Linked DNA regions of Homo sapiens. The protein of the gene in region 1 purifies or fractionates together with the protein of each later gene. This does not show direct contact. Each region holds a gene or a part of one and is shown in the gene's direction. Other genes may lie near its edges.

Region 1 (3,750 bases):
AATATTTGCCAAAACATATGGCCTTATTTTTTATTGTTTGTAAAACATTGTAAAGCATTGTAAATTGAAAAAATTACCTCCATTGGAAAAGTTCATTCCTCTAAAGCCTCACTGTCTCAATTGTGAGCATCCCACTCTTCCCAAAGTATGCTCACTGGAAATAAATAAAAATTATAACACACATTGCATATATATTAAATTGCATATAATCATTTTAGCTAACACTAAAGAAAAAAGAGCTGAGTTGGCTGATAGGAGTAAAAGTAGGATATTACAAGGTGGTTAGCTAGTCCAAGTCTTGTCATGGATCCCTGATTGTCATTTCGATTGATGTGTGGAGAGGGAGCCATTTTATTCAGTGCTCTAAGAAAACCTAGAACACAAATCTGGGAGTCAGAGCATCTTTGGTAATCCCTGTTTCCGTTGGTGGCTTGTTGTTATAACAGTTCTTTCAGTAAATTATTAAAAGCATTTTGGGGCTGGGTGCGGTGGCTCACACCTGTGATCCCAACACTTTGGGAGGCTGAGGTGGGCAGATCAACTGAGGTCTGGAGTTCGAGACCAGCCTGGCCAACATGGTGAAACCTCGTCTCTACTAAAAATACAAAAAAATTAGCCAGGCATGGCGGTGTGTGTCTGTAATCCCAGCTACTTGGGAGGGTGAGGCAAGAGAATCGCTCGAACCCAGGAGGCGGAGGTTGCAGTGAGCTGAGATCGCACCACTGCACTCCAGCCTGGGAGACAGAGCAGGACTTCATCACAGAAAAAAAAAAAAGCATTTCGAATTTAGCATTACTTAACCTGTGAAAACATTCTGTAGACACCTGAGAGGAGTTTTACTAGTTACTTACTGAACTTTGGTCTCAAAAGACACCAAAATACAACTCTTATAAACACATTGACTAAGAAACTTCTGATGAGTTCACAGAAATTCTAGTGTTTTAGTTGTGAACAGCTGAATGGGTTCCTGATCCTTTGATGCAGTGGGGAGAAAGGCAACTTACAAATTACACTGATAGGCAAGTGAAATCCATCCCATATATTTATATATATACTAGTGGCAATGCTTATTTTAGGACTGCATGTCATTTTGCATACCATACATAATACTTGAGAAAAATCTGTGGTGGGTGCTTTTTCTGCCTGATTTGAAACCAGTGATTTTTCTTTCAGGTATAGAAGCCAAGAAGAATGTGGTGGTAACTCAAGCCGACCAAATAGGCCCTCTTCCCAGCACTTTGATAAAAAGTGTGGACTGGTTGCTTGTATTTTCCTTATTCTTTTTAATTAGTTTTATTATGTATGCTACCATTCGAACTGAGAGTATTCGGTGGCTAATTCCAGGACAAGAGCAGGAACATGTGGAGTAGTGATGGTCTGAAAGAAGTTGGAAAGAGGAACTTCAATCCTTCGTTTCAGAAATTAGTGCTACAGTTTCATACATTTTCTCCAGTGACGTGTTGACTTGAAACTTCAGGCAGATTAAAAGAATCATTTGTTGAACAACTGAATGTATAAAAAAATTATAAACTGGTGTTTTAACTAGTATTGCAATAAGCAAATGCAAAAATATTCAATAGATGCACTATTCTTGTTTTTACTGCATGAACGTAATCCAGTATTTGGAAAGTAATCCAGTTTGAAATGTGAAGATGTATTCCGGCAGAATAGTGAGTAGAATGACATGCTTACTATACAGAAGGCAAAAATAGGACTCTCAGGTAATAGTTTAAGGAAACCCTTGATTCCTTATATATGTTTAAGAAGGTTAGTTTTCTGTTTCTTTGCAGTTTTTCTTCTAGAGTCCATAGCAGGAAAGTATGTAACCAGAATTGGTTAGTGTGACCCCCTCAAGTAGCAAGTGATGGAAAATAAGAGTCAAATACCTTGATGTTTGTGATCTCTAACTCAAAAAATTTGAAGTGTTTTAAGTTGTTTCTGGGTAAGGGAGATGTTAGGAGAAAGGAAATGCTGTAACTAAAGCTCAATTATTATCAGTTCTATGCTAACGTATACATTTTAATCATAGTTACCTAAGCAGCATGCATTAATTGAACCTTAAAATGTTCCCAGCAGGCTGGGCGCAGTGGCTCATGCCTGTAATCCCAGCACTTTGGGAGGCCAAGGCGGGAGGATCACTTGAGGTTAGGACTTTTGAGACCAGCCTGGCCAACTTGGTGAAACCCTCTCTCTACTAAAAATACAAAAAATTAGCTGGGCGTGGTGGCGGGCACCTGTAATCCCAGCTACTTGGGAAAGCTGAGGCATGAGAATCACTTGAACCCGGGAGGCAGAGGTTGCAGTGAGCTGAGATCATGCCACTGCACTCCAGCCTGTGCAACCAGAGCGAAACTCCATCTCAAAAACAAACAAAAAGAAGTATTGAAGTGTAAAACACTGTTCTTGCCCACAAGTTGATTCTAGTCTAGTTCAAGACACATGTTTAGTAAAGAGACAACATGTAATTTAAACAAACTTTTTTTTTTTTTTTAGACAAAGTCTCACTCTGTCACCTAGGCTGGAGTGCAATGGTGCAATCTTGGCTCACTGCAACCTCTGCTTCCCGGGTTCAAGCGATTCTCCAGCCTCAGCCTCCTGAGTAGCTGGGACTATGGGCCTGTGCCATCACACCCAGCTAATTTTTCTATTTTTAGTAGAGATGGGGTTTTGCCATGTTGGCCAGGCTGGTCTCAAACTGCTGACTTCAGGTGATCCACCCGCCTCAGCCTCCCAAAGTGTTGGGATTACAGGTGTGAGCCACTGCGCCTGGCCTAAACAAACTTTTTGAAAAGCTGTTTCTAAAAGATTCCTTAAATTCAGATATGACAGCTAATTACCTCATCATAAATTACTTTTATACTAATTGTTTCCAGGGTTTTAGAGTAGTTGAATGTTTATTTCACAAGGCACCCTAAATTCTATAGAAATAAAACCTCAGATGAGTCTCCTTCTTAGAGTGTTACAATGAATGGGAGTTTACAACTTTTATGTGTCATGTTTCCAACAGCTGTGTTTGGGGTGGTCACTGGCAGGAGGGGACCGTATCTCAGAATGGCACATTATTTCTATTTTACACATGAGCAAATTGAGGCATAGAGAGTTAGATAACTTGCCCAGGTTACACAGATTGTAAGTTGATGAAGCTGGGATTTGAATCTTCACATGTGTGTACTTATAAATACAAATGTAAGGAAAACTCTAGTGAGTCCACCTCTTATATTGAGTTATTACTGTGTGAGTGCCAAGTACTGTTTTAGATGCTTTACATATACTATTTTGTTTAATATCCTTTTTAAAGAATAAACTAGGTTGGTGCAGTAGCTCACGCCTGTAATCCCAGGACTTTGGGAAGCTGAGGCAGGTGGATTGCTTGAGTCTCAGGAGTTCGAGACCAGGCTGGTTAACATGGCGAAACCCTGTCTTTACTAAAAGTACAAAAAATTAGCTGGGTGTGGTGGTGCGTCCTGGTAGTCCCAGCTACTCGGGGTGCTGAGGTGGGAGAATCACCTGAGCCCAGGAGGTCGAGGCTGCAGTGAGCTCTGTAATCATGCCACTGCGCTCCAGCTTAGGCAATCAGAGTGAGACCCTGTCTCAAAGCAAAAGAAAAAACCTGAGGCTCTCAATAACTTGCTTTCCTTCATGCAGCTTCCAGTGGCTGGAACCAGGCTTTAAATTTACTCCAAAACCTTTATGTGGGATGGCACCCTGCCCTGCCTTTGCACCATGGCCCAGCTACATGGGGTTCCCCTG
Region 2 (3,750 bases), on another chromosome or scaffold:
CGTGCAGTAAGCACATTATGATACGTAATACTGGAAATGGTAGGAAGTGGACAGACTTCAGAGTTATTTAGGAAGTAGAATCTTGGCGATTTGTTAGATGCCGAGGTGAAGGCAGAGTTTGGGAAACACTGGATAGTGGTGTCTTCACTATCACAGGGAGACAGGGAGTTGAAAGCAAGCAGGGAAAGGACGCATTCAGTTTTGGATGGGTTCCATTTGAGGTGCTTGTTACCAGGAGTAGCTGAATAGGAAGCTAGATAAACGGATTTGGAGCTCAGAGGAGCAAAGATTAGAGTTGCAAATTTGGGATATATTGATTTAAATGTTGACAGCAGGTTAAATCATTCAGGGAAAAATTGTGGAGTAAGAGGAAAGGTCTGAGACCTTGAAAACTCTGTTATTTGGTGGTCACCCAGAGTAGACAAGCACGCCAAGACTGGGGACAGACAGGAAAGTGGAGCACCCCCGCCACAGGAAGACGTGTTTTAAGGAGAAAGAAGGAATTTTGCTCAGATCAGTTAACACGAGAAAGGAGAGTGTCCTTTGACTTTAGTGATGTGGATGCTACTTGCGACAATTAAAAAGGCAATTTCACCGAGTGTGAAAACGAACACGTGGAGTTGAGAGACCACAAAACTGGGGGCAGGCGCCTCTTTCACCAACTTCAGCGATGGAAAGTAGAAGAGGGTGGCAGCAAGGGTACGTGGAGTAGAGAATCTTGGAATGATGAAATGCCGAGGATACGGATTCCAGTCCAGAGGGAGCAACGGATCGGATTCTGCGATACTGGAAAAACAGAAGGTGGGGGGGGGGGCTCGGTGATGGAGGGAGCAGGTGTGCAGTTTTGCCGGTGGAAAGTGGAAGTTTCTCTTTTCTCCTGAAGCAGGCGGCAAAGACCTCTGAGAGTGGGAGTGTGGTGGGTGTGCCGGGCCCCTGGATGGGAGTGGAGGTTTGGAACCAAGTGGCCCGAGCCTGCGGTGAGTGGGCCCGCCCTGGGTGGCTCTGGCCGCAGCAGGGTCGATGGGGCGGCATGGTCTCGGCGGGAAGAACACGGCTTCAGTCAGTTCTGTTCTAAGAAGCAGAAGGTGGAGATACGCATGTTTTAAACAACTCCTCCCGGACAGGAAGAAGTGGAGTTCTGGCTGTTCTGCGAGGACGCCGCAGTCCCAGCGTGGAGACCACCGCGCAGGCGAAGCGCGAGACAGGCCAGAAATAGGGTCCCGCGCGCGGACCCCGGAGGAAAAGCGAGGGCTCACTCGGTTTCCCGCAGCCAGCCTCGCCCGACCCAGCTGGGGCCGCCCCTTCCCGCCCCGGCCCCGCCTCCGCCTCAGCTCCGCGCCCACAACCCGGCTTCCTCCTCTCCCGCCGGGTCCGTCTGTCCCTGCGCCTCCTTCGCCGCCGACTAGCGCCCCCTGGCCTGACGTCACCGGCGCGTCCGCCAATGAGCTGAGGAGGGACTTGGCTGTGGCCTGAAAGTGACGGGAGCAGCAGCCAATGGTCGGGCGGAGGGGGCGGGCCGAGACTGGTGCTGGGGGGCGCCCGCGCGCGTGGGGAGCTGCGGGAGGCGCGGCGCGGGGGGGGTCGGGTGCGCGGCGGGCGGCCCCTCCCCCTGCCAGGTCCGGGCGGGTGCCTGGAGCCGCCAGAGTTTCCGCACCCGGGAGGGAGATGCGGCCGGGGCTCAGGCTCCTTGCAGGTAACGCGCGGGGCGGCCCCTGCAGGGCCGAGCGCGCCGCGGGGCGAGCGGAGTTGGACGCGGAGCGGGCGCGGGTTCCCCGCTGCCGCCGTGTCCCGAGCCCCGCACGGCGGCCCGGGCCAGAGCGGCGCTGCTGGAGGAGTTGGTTCCGGGACCTGAGCTGCGGCCCGGGCCGGGGTCACGGGGGACGCGGGCCCCTGTGTGAGCCGCACATGGGACAAAGGGCGCGGCGTGGAGGCTGCGCGCCCCGCCCGCCGCGCTCGGGCCCCTGAGCTTCTCCGCCCGGGCAGAGGTCGCCGCCCCCAGCCCCTGCCTGCACAGCCGCGCCGGCGCTCCCTCGGCCCGGGCGCACCCGGCGCCTGCGGCGCGTCCCCGGAGCGGCCATCTGGCCGCGGGGCCCCGCGCCTGGCCGCCAGCTGGCCGCGGCGCAGGCGATGGCTGGACACAGCCGGGCCGCTTGGCCGCCTGCCCTGGGTTCCGCGGCGGCTCCCCCGCCGCGCCGCGAGCGCCTGCTACTCCACGCTCGGCTGCGGAGCGGAGCGGCGCGAGCGCGGGGCCACCGGCCCGGGCGCCCGGGGCCACCGAGCCGCCGCTTCCCGGCGTGGGCTCGGAGTTTGGGGAAGCCGAGCAGGTGGCGCAGCCACTGCCCACCTCCTGCGAACTCTGCGGGGCTTCTGGTCTTGTTGATGTTGTGGCTATGGGCTGCGTGTGTGTTTTTCTTTTTTTTAAACCACACACAAAAGAAGGGAGGAGTTAGAGGAACGATCTAGCCACTATGAGTCATCCCACACTTCGCTCTTTCCCCGGGAGAGCAAATAAATGCATGGGGAGAATGTCTTGAGAAACAGTTATAGTAGGGACTGACTAGGTCCCCTCCCTGTCCCTTTTCTCTGCAGTCCTGTCTGCGCCGGGCGCGCCCCAGATGGAGTGGGGTAAAATCACGGCCAGTGCACCTAGATAGGGGAAATGGCTACAAGCTAGCAAACTGGAAACTTTCTGGGACAGTGGAACTGTGAATATCAAACCACACACATTCTTGCTATAGGCAGCCATGGCCCTCGTGCGCTACTGAATTATAAAATGGGAAGGCCGTCACAGCAGGACGATACCTTAGCCTTCAGTAGCATGTATTCAGCACTGCACGGAGGAGGGCGGTGGTGGTGGCTCGCGCCCCTGCCTTGAGGGGCCCAGGGTCTGATCAGTCAGGAAACTGCCAGGCCCAGGGATGCAGGGTCACAAACGATTGTGTTCTCTAATCTGATTCCCAGAGGCGCTGTCACCTCTCAGCGTGCATAGGATGGCTGGCTATGTGATTGAATGTTACAGATGAGGTAGAAAGGCTGGGCAGAGGTCAGCAGGCCCCTGGATGCATGGAGGGGAATATTCTTCTGTAGGTGGCTGCTGCTAATTTTTCCAAGGGGAAACATTTAGGTTTGGTCTCGCCATTCTGTTTACCGCAGTCCAGGCTGCCGTGTCAGCTGTCATTGGGCCCTCATGGTTCACAGCTGGATGACATTTGTTTTTCTGGGGTCCCTGTGTGGGGTCTTTTTGGCCTTCTCACTGATGATTAATTTGTTTTAACCTCCTGAAAACAGAGGCTCGATATGAGAAGTTTGAGAAATTGTAGGATAAAGGGACGTCTGCTTTGTTCCAGATTCAGCCCCTGTTGAGGGGCCAGTTGATTCTGTCGCAGGAGTCAGGTAGCGAGCAGAACACTGACTTCATTCCTCCTGGGTTGTGCCCTCTGCTTGGCCTGTAGCAGAGGCCACAGTGGGTCTCTCTTTTTGTTGCTTCATAAGGTGAACTAACGATCCAGCTATGGCAGAGGAGCCAGGGAGCCCAGGCAGGACATCATGTGGAGAAGAGGGACCAGAAAGTTCAACCTAGGGCCCATCTGGAAGAAAACAGAGCATCCTTTCCTATTTCATGTCCTGACTGTAAAAAATGGTGGAGGCCGGGCACGGTGGTTCACACCTGTAATCCCCATGCTTTGGAAGGCTGAGGCAGGAGGATCGCTTGAAGCCAGGAGTTTGATTCCAGCCTGGGCAACATAGTGA
Region 3 (3,681 bases), on another chromosome or scaffold:
ATATATCACTTAAAAATAAACAAGTAAAAAAAGAGGAAATTGTAACAATATATCTTATTTAACCCAGTATATCTAAAATAGTATTGTTTCAACATGTAGTTCAACATATAAAAATTATGAGTGAAATATTGTACATTTTTGTTTCTGAGCTAATTGAAATCAGCATGTCGTTAACACTGCAGCACATCTCAATTTGGACTAGCCACATTTCAAATGCTCAGTAGTCACATGTAGTTAGTGGCTACCCTATTGGACACAACAGTTACAGAGCATCCCCAAAACTGCCCTGTGACCCCAAGGGCCCTGTGAGAAAGGAGCATCACACTTCACACACCCCCCTACCCTTTGGTGATATTTCAGTGTCTTAAATAAAGGAATCTTACCTGGCTTGAAAGTGTACATGAGGTCTTACTGTAAATTGTTAGAATATGAAGAGGTGACTGGGATGAGACTAGAAGAGGGAAGTAAAGCATACGATAGGGAAGGAGAGGAGGATCTTGCAGTAAAGCCTGTAGAAAGATAAAAGAAGAAAAGGGGGATATACCTGTTCCTTTTCTTTAATTGGTGGCATTTGAAGGGGAAGGAACTGAAATATGTGTGAGAGTAGGCTGTGCTTTGCTACAAAGCTTAATGAGTGGAAGTAAATTCCCATAACCAACATTAGCTAACACATTTAGTTCTTAGCATGAGACTTCACTATTCCAGGGCTTTCCATTTATTAACTTGTTTAATCAGTATACAACAGTATGTGCAGTTACTGTGATTAAACCAATTTTGCAGATGAGGAAAATAAGATAGAATTAGATGAATCTGGAAAATACCTCCTTAGCCAAATTAAGTTGAAATGAACTTACAGATTTTTGTTCTGCCTTAAGTATCCCAGCTCTTCTGCTTTTCTGCAAAGACATACCAAGACCCAGGTGTGAGTTAAAGGCAAAGAGTCAACTGGAAATCATAAAATCCAAAAAGTTTGAACATTTGTATGTAGAGCCAGGTAACTTCTACCCCGAAACTGTTTTAGGTGTATCTTGTTAAAATTTAAGCTAGAATTTTAAAATAAAAATTAAATAAAAGCTAGAGATTTTTAAAAGTTTCTAGGACAAAGAATAGTACTTGGGAATTAATGGAATAGTATCCATCACAAACTTAAGATGTATACATTGGTCTTGGTTAACTTTAATTTTGGTTTATTTTTGATCATCTTTAATACTATGTTTGCTTTCTTTTGACATGTAAAACTTTATAAGGGCTTTTGTAGGTTTGCGTCAGACACTGATCCTTCAGTCTTCTTTTTCTCTAGATGTTAAATTCTTCACCTTCCAGTTCTACCCTGGGGATCTTGAAGAACCCAGCCTCTGGTTAGAGACAAACTCCAGGAGATGAAAGCCTAGACTGAGTCTCATTATGATATACAATTCACTGCTTTCATTCTTCATGTTCACTTTACATACTTCCAACACAAAATAATTAAACAAGTTAAAAATTAGAGCCTGTATTAACTAGAATAAATATTTTGCCATAAGCTACAATTGTCAGGGCTTCAATTTCTGAGTTAATATCTTCATGTTTGAGCCATTATAAAGGGTTAGTGTTAGCATATACTTAGAACATTTTCTTAGTAAGGTATCACTTTTCTTTGTTTCAGATTTTATATTGATAGAGTTATCATAAATCTACACAAGTGCTGAATGCCATTATAAAATCTTTGAGTGATCCATACATGCCATATTTAGTGGAATATATGTGATATTGGGAAAGGTGATTGATTATGAAGAAAAATCTGTTTTCCTGTTACTTTTAATTTAGACAATGTATTCCATCCACAACTCCAAAATATTAAGAGCCACATAGACCAAATAAGTATTATTTATTATCCCTGGAGACAGGGATAATAAATAGTAGTCTCTGCATTCCATAGCTGCTCCTGTTTTGAGCTTATGCCTCCATGAGTTGGGAACAGCAGTCAAGAGTTTTGCATATTTCCTAGCAGTAATATGCCCCATCCTCGATTCAGATGTGATCTGTTTTGGAATATTTTATCATTTATAGTTTTTCAGGATGGTGTATTGACTTGGTGATTCCTTTTTAGTAAACTTTCATGTAACCAAATTCGTATAATAGGGTACCCAAGAGTTATCATGTTTCAATACTTTTTTATCTTACAGTTGGCACTACGAGATGCACTTTTGAAAAAGAGAAAAAGAATGAAGTAACTTCCTGGCAAGTTTTCCATTCCTAGAAGAATGCTAAGTTTGTGTCCTTGCTCTGAAAATTGGTAAATCAAGCATGTTTGTTTACATTAAAAAGTCCAGACACACTGTATTGTGAAAACTGCTGAACATGTGGCAGCAATTTTGTGTTTTTATTTTGGAGACGGCTAATGGTAGGAATGTTAATGTAAATAGTGGTGGTAATGTAAAATCATTTCATTTATCATTCATGCAAAAAAAAGTATGTATTGAGTGCCTATTCATTGTCACTGTAGATGCAAAACGAATGAGCTGTAACCCCTTCACTCAAGGCATTGACAGCTTAGCTGTGAGGGTGGACACACATATGTGTATTTACAGTGCAGTGTAAATAGTTCTGTAGTAGAGGTTAACTCCATATTTCTGTGAGGTCACTGAGGCCTTATGGACTAACTCTGTGAGGATAGGAGTTATATATTCTTATAAGACAAAACAAAACAGGACAATGTTACAAGAGTAAGAGGTTCTTACTTGTACATAGGCTTTCCTGCTGAAAACAGGCCCCTGCTGTACAGATTTTGGGTACATAATTTAGCTCTTTTAGTCAATCCAAGAGATTTAAGTGACCCCCCCCCCCCCGTGTTTTTTTTGTTTTTGTTTTTGTTTTGAATGCCATGTAAAGGCTTTTTGGTTAAGACCTCACTTTTAAAACTGCCTTAAGTATAAATAGTACCTTTGGAATATATTTAGTTCATCATTTGAGCTGCCTTCATACTGGTTTCCTCAGCCTTCCTTCAGCCTGTAATATTTTCAGCCCACTGTTTACCTTGTCTCAATAAAAGGTTTCTAATGCCAAATACGTACCTTTGTATGTGGAGTGGTGTGTGGTGTTCTACGTTCCACAGGCGTGCTACATCCATTTCAGGGGACAGTCTGTTTGCATGCAATTTTTTGCATTTGGAAATAGTTTGGTGCCTTTTGCTTCAGCTTTCTCAGATAATGTTGTGGTAGATGTTACCTCAAGTTAGAGTAAAGGGCAATTTTCTGCACTCAGAAAGCATTTTCTTTTTTATTTATTTATTTGTTTTTTTTTTTTTTTGAAACGAAGTTCACTCTTGTTGCCAAGGCTGGAGTGCAATGGCACGATCTTGGCTCACCACAACCTCCGCCTCCCAGGTTCAAGCGATTCTCCTGCCTCAGCCTCCCAAGTAGCTGGGATTATAGGCATGCGCCACCACGCCTGGCTAATTTTGTATTTTTGTTTTAGTAGAGACGGGCTTTCTCCCGACGTGAGGTGATCCCAGAGTGCTGGGATTACAGGCATGAGCCACTGCGCCTGGCCTAGAAAGCAGTTTCTAAAACCAGTGTTCTTATTTCCTTTCCAGTTTCTTCTGTTCACTTTCTACATTCAACTTCAGTTTTATTTCAATGAGACTTAGAGACTTTCCCTAAAATGCCCCAGATTGCTGTTGGGGGATTAGTCAAGTCACCA

The links.
Region 2: the proteins of TXNDC15 (region 1) and TMTC4 purify together in Homo sapiens (affinity purification with mass spectrometry; 3 studies listed by BioGRID and IntAct, with this or other methods). This does not show direct contact.
Region 3: the proteins of TXNDC15 (region 1) and SDAD1 purify together in Homo sapiens (affinity purification with mass spectrometry; 2 studies listed by BioGRID and IntAct, with this or other methods). This does not show direct contact.

The regions. Positions count from the first base shown.
Region 1 is NC_000005.10:134,898,316-134,902,065, forward strand, and holds the end of TXNDC15 (thioredoxin domain-containing protein 15 isoform 1 precursor), read left to right. Parts: intron 1-1,173; coding exon 1,174-1,370; 3' UTR 1,371-3,320; downstream 3,321-3,750. UniProt on the Homo sapiens protein: Acts as a positive regulator of ciliary hedgehog signaling. Involved in ciliogenesis.
Region 2 is NC_000013.11:100,672,687-100,676,436, reverse strand, and holds the start of TMTC4 (protein O-mannosyl-transferase TMTC4), read left to right. Parts: upstream 1-1,641; 5' UTR 1,642-1,693; intron 1,694-3,750. UniProt on the Homo sapiens protein: Transfers mannosyl residues to the hydroxyl group of serine or threonine residues.
Region 3 is NC_000004.12:75,949,282-75,952,962, reverse strand, and holds the end of SDAD1 (protein SDA1 homolog), read left to right. Parts: intron 1-2,165; coding exon 2,166-2,213; 3' UTR 2,214-3,048; downstream 3,049-3,681.